Linked DNA regions of Homo sapiens: region 1 is linked to region 2. Evidence: fine-mapped expression QTL. Tissue or cell type: whole blood. Region 2 holds a variant in brackets; the other region holds the start of a gene. All regions are shown on one strand. Distances are between the middles of the regions.

Region 1 (2,604 bases), 24 kb before region 2:
CAGCTACTCGGGAGGCTGAGGCAGGAGAACTGCTTGAACCTGGGAGGCAGAGGTTGCAGTGAGCCGAGATTGCGCCACTGCACTACAGCCTGGGCAACAGAGCGAGACTCTGTCTCAAAAAAAAATAAAAATAAAAATAAAAAAAAAAAAGATAAAAAGGAACAGCCCCTGGTCCAAAATCCCAGATAAGGTAGAATCATTTTTTTTTTTTTTTTGAAACACCAAGTGCGAGTCAGCCTGGGTTTTTAGACCTAAATCTAAAAATGTATTGAACACCTGTATGATTTCATAAATATTGCCCTGATTGACGAGGCACCCCAAAGAAAGGCAGAACTGGATTCAACATGGAAAGAAAGTATCCCAAGAAGCCAGCCATGAGAGTGACAGTCCCATCTGTGCTACAAGAGTAAGGCTACTGAGGTTGAGATGCAAGAGCTTTGTGCTGGGGGGCCACAAGACAGAGCAGATCCGGAATCCAGGCAACCTTCACTTCCAGCCTGAAGACTCTCCTACGAACTATGATAGTAAATGATGGAGAGGCCCTAGGGTTTGGGATCAAACAATTCTGGTTTGAGCACGCACCCCGCCCCACAATCCTTCCTTCTGCCATTTTACTTAATCTTGCTGAACCTGTTTTCCTCAGCCAAAAAAAAAAAAAGCTCGCATAGTGGCTGAACTAATTATGTGAAATATGTGAAATGTGCTTTGCAGCAGGTGGCTTTTAAACTATTGACCAGAAAACACATACACTGAAAAAAAAAATTTTTTTTACATTATAAGCCAGTATACACATATAAGTATATACAATTGAAACAAGAGTTTCACAAAAACTGTACTTACCTTACTACCTGGGAGTCACTTGGTATATTACTATTGTATTTAATTTTTTATATGCTGATTGCAACTCACTACATTGTTTTCACTCCTAATGGGTAGTTTTTTAAAAACACTTTTCAAAACCATGCAATTATCAGTTATTACGAAGATTAGTAAGATTCTCAGGAATGGTCTGATGGCTAGGAATCTTCATTGCCAGGGAAACAAAGGAAAAAGGTCAAGGTTATTAGGTCAAGCCCTTGGGAGCCCTGTTGCCAAGGGAACAGATCGACCCCCGTCAGGGTTGGTTTACCCACGGTCTGCAGCCCTGTGGAGAAAAGGAGTGGCCCGTGGGCCTGTCACTCACATCAGAGTTGGGAAGCCCGCCTCCAAGCCCGGAAGACCCGCCTCCTCTGTAAGGTTAAAGGAGGAAGAGGCAGAGATTGGAGGTTCAGGCAGTGACGTAACTTGCTGCCTTAGGTGGCCTTCCGCTCTGGCGGCTGTCGCGACGGGGGTTCAGGGAATATTTACTGGGCCTCTCCGCTCCCTCTGCTCTTGGAGGTGCCATGAGGTCAGTTAGCTACGTGCAGCGCGTGGCGCTGGAGTTCAGCGGGAGCCTCTTCCCGCACGCAATCTGCCTCGGAGACGTTGATAACGATACGGTAGGTGCATGCGCACCGCAAGAGACAGCCTGGATCTGTGCAGGGACGGGGCAAGGGAAGTGGAAGAGGCCGCCCGAGCGTGCCACGTGAGCGTGAGCATGCGCGCTGTGGCTAGTTTGGAGCGCTAGAGAGAAAAACTTTATTGATAGCTTCAGTGTTCGTGGTTGGTTTTGTTCCTTGGGAGGTTTTGTTTGTTTTTTGAGACAGGCTCCGTCTGTCACCCAGGCTGGAGTGCAGTGGCTTGATTTCGGCTCACCGCAACCTCTGCCTCCCGGGCTCGAGCGATTCTCCTACCTCAGCCTCCCAAGGGGCTGGGATTACAGGCGCCCGCCACCACGCCCGACTAATTTTTGTGTTTTTAGTAGAGGTGGGGTTTCACCATGTTGGCCCAAAGTGCTGGGACTACAGGCCTGAGCCATCGTGCCCAGCCCTTCTCGTTTTTTAAATAAATTACCACAGGTCAAGCAGGTAAAACAATGCCTGGCACACAGTTTAGTGCTCACTTAAGTGTTAGTGGTGGTGGTGGTGGTGTTAGTATTTTATTCTGTTTTTCTGCAAATCTTTACTGAACTGCTCATTATGCACCAAGGACTCTGCTACATTCTAGGAATTCAAAAATGAACGAGAGAGTTCCAGTCCTCAGATAGCTCATAATCAAGCTGTGTAATAGTCACCGGATAATAAAATGTAATGAGATGCATTGACTAAAGTATGGAGAGGATTCTCCGGTGGAGCATTAAAGGGAATAGTGTCTGATGCTCTTTTTTTTGCAGACTTTATCTTTTCATTTATCATCTATTTCATAGTTCTAATGCAAAGCACTGTATTGCCCCCTTCTACCCTCTGCCCTATCTTCCTACTCGGCCTCCCTGCTTCACAGTTCCTTAACTGTCCTGTACTTATTTCCCACCGCCCCCTAGTGCTGTGATGCAGAAGGTATCTTATGAGGCCTTTTTTGGCTCTACCCTCTCTGGGGAGGAAAGAGTTATTCTCATAAATTTGTGTTATGTTTTCTGGGCTTTCGTGTTTCTTCATGAACTGCCAAGCAGTCCAATTTTATGAGAAAATTAGAGGAGGAATTTTTAAAATTTTTTTGTTTTTTATAGAGACAGGGTCTCACTCTGTT
Region 2 (2,756 bases):
GAGAGAGAGAAGGAGAGTGAGAGACAGTGCTGTAAACTGTCAGGGTGCCCGTGCCAGGTGGTTTGCGAGGAAGCGCTTGTCACTGTGTGGGGGCAGCAGCCTTAGTGCACCTCCCAGCGTGTGTGGCCCCCGCCCTCCTCTGCATCCCTCCCAGGCTTCCCAGGACTGCCCAGCTGTTTTCTCCTGGCATTATCTGCAGCCCAGGGCTGGCGCGCAGGCCAGTAACTGGGTTCAGATCAAAGAGGGGCAGCATGAGAGCGTCCTTCCCTCCTCTCATCCCCCTAGCCTTACCTTGTTAGGTCTCTTGCCTCCCGCCTAGCAGATGTCAGAGTCTTTAACTAATTGACTCTGGATTCTGGGTTCCAGGGAATGACAGGAACAACTCTGAATCTTCCCACGAGTAGAAATTGTCCCTGGCATCTCAGTCTCCTTTATATGACTCTCCTCAAGTCCTGGCTCTTTAAAAAATGTTGCATTTCAAATATACAGAAGTTATAAAGAATAAGATAACCAGTACTCTTCACTCATCACCAGTTTAAAAAATAAGCTGTTGAAGCTCCCTGTGCACTTCCACTTCCGCCTGCTGAAATTGGTGTTTATCAGGCCCAGACTTCTTTATATTCTTTATGCAAATACTTACATATGCATTCTAAGCAATATGTCGTTGGTTTTGTCCTACTCACTGTATTTATTCTTCTGCAATCTGCTCTTTTTTGCTGAATAGTTTTTGTTAGTGAGATTCATCCATACGGTATGCCCAGCTCTAGTTAATTGACTTCACCTGCTGTGTAACATAGTATTCCATTAGATGCATGCATGACATTGAGGAAATGTAGGTTATTTTTCATTTTTAGGTCTAACAAACAATGCTGCTATGAATATTTTTGCACACATCTCCTGGGGCACCTATGTAGGCATTTCTCTAGAGTATACACCTACACCTAGGAGTGGAATTGCTGGGGCATCCCATATACAGCTTTGCCTTTTTGGCATATTGCCAGAGTGTTTTTACCAGTGCACACTGAGACAGCTGCACACAGGGGCTCCTGAGGTTCCACATCCTCTCCAGGACTTGGTATCAGACTTTTTCTAGCCCTGGCTTATCAGCAGATTTTTCTCTCCAGCCTTTCCTCTTCACCATCAGGGAAACGCATTGGCCAAGCACCTGTTTACCTGTGTTGGATGCTCACAGGGTGATTACCCCACCTGAGCCCTGCTCCCTAAGGGTGCAGTCTGACTCAGACAGCTCCAAGGCACATGTACTTTCAGACAAACCAGATGTCTGCTGAGCTTCTAGGAACCAAGCCTCTTTGAGACACTTTCACAACCACTGCAATTATATGAAGAAATACTGTATTCTAATCCCCATTTAGAGGGAAAGAAAGTGTTATGGGTTGAATTGTTTCCTTCACCCCCCAAATGTACCCCTAACCCCTAGTACCTCAGAAGGCGACCTCATTTGGAGATAGGGCCTTTACAGATATGGTGAAGTTAAGATGAGGTCATTAGGATGAGCCTACTCCCATATGACTGCGCTCTTATTAAAAGGAGGAAGTGGGACGCAGAGAGAAACGCACATGGGGAGAACGCCACGTGAAGGCTGAGGT[C/T]GGGATAATGCATCTGCAAGCCAAGGAACACCTAAGAGGACCAGCAAACCACCAGAAGCCAGGGGAGAGGCGTGGAACAGACCCTGCCTTACAGCTGTCAGAAGGAACCAACCCTGCCAACACCTTCCTGTTGTACTTTCAGCTTCCAGAACTGTAAGATGACAAATTTCTATTGTTTTAGCCACTCAAGCTTGTGATACATACTTTGTTATGGCATCCCCAGGAAACTAGTACATTAAGTCTTAGGACCCAGCACAGTGGTTCACGTCTGTAATCCCAGCACTTTGGGAGGCTGAGGCGGGTGGATCACCTGAGATCAGGAGTTCGAGACCAGCCTGGCCAACATGGTGAAACGCTGTCTCCACTAAAAATGCAAAAAATTAGCTGGGCATGGCCGGGCGCGGTGGCTCACGCCTGTAATCCCAGCACTTTGGGAGGCCGAGGCAGGCGGATCACGAGGTCAGGAGACCGAGACCATCCTGGCTAACACAGTGAAACCCCGTCTCTACTAAAAATACAAAAAAATTAGCCGGGCGCGGTGGCAGGCGCCTGTAGTCCCAGCTACTCAGGAGGCTGAGGCAGGAGAATGGCGTGAACCCGGGAGGTGGAGCTTGCAGTGAGCCGAGATCACGCCACTGCACTCCAGCCTAGGCGACAGAGAGAGACTCCGTCTCAAAAAAAAAATTAGCTGGGCATGGTGGCACACGCCTGTAATCCCAACTACTTGGGAGGCTGAGGCAGGAGAATTGCTTGAAGCCGGGAGGAGGAGGTTGCAGTGAGACAAGATTGTGCCATTGCACTCCAGCCTGGGCAACAAGAGTGAAACTCCGTCTCAAAAAAAAAACCCAAAAAACAAAAACAAAACAAAATTAAAAATTAGCCAGGTGTGGTGGCATGTACCTATAGTCTCAACTACTCAGGAGGCTGAGGTGGGAGGATCACTTGAGTCCAGAAATTCGAGGCTGCAGTGAGCTATGATGGCACCACTGAACTCCAACCTGGGTGACAGAGCGAGACACTGTCTCTAAAAGAAAAAAATTCTTAGAAAATATGCCCAAGATTCAGTTATGATATAGCAGAGCAGGTGGTCCAGTCCTTGTGTTCTCTCTCCCAAGGTCTGTTCAATTTACGCTGTGCCTAAAGGAGAAT

The links. PIP is the estimated chance that this variant, and not a neighbour inherited with it, causes the effect.
Region 1: it holds the start of ITFG2, and the variant in region 2 is fine-mapped to the expression of ITFG2 in whole blood (TOPMed, PIP above 0.99). The same link has a PIP of 0.9 or more in T cells, blood mononuclear cells, lung and monocytes.

What each region holds. Positions count from the first base shown.
Region 1 is chr12:2,811,379-2,813,982 of GRCh38, forward strand. It overlaps ITFG2 (integrin alpha FG-GAP repeat containing 2), which reads left to right and starts at 1,290. Exons shown (of 12, transcript NM_018463.4): 1 at 1,290-1,478. The coding sequence starts at 1,383. It overlaps ITFG2-AS1 (ITFG2 antisense RNA 1), which reads right to left and starts at 1,546. Exons shown (of 4, transcript NR_146317.1): 1 at 1,184-1,546. RefSeq lists enhancers at 837-1,586, 1,317-1,566 and a silencer at 1,117-1,206.
Region 2 is chr12:2,835,197-2,837,952 of GRCh38, forward strand. It overlaps a transcript of ITFG2 not described here. Among named protein-coding and RNA genes, the nearest start is that of NRIP2, 1.5 kb to the left of the region's middle. RefSeq lists enhancers at 1-65, 66-609. The variant C/T (reference allele first, on the strand shown) is at 1,608.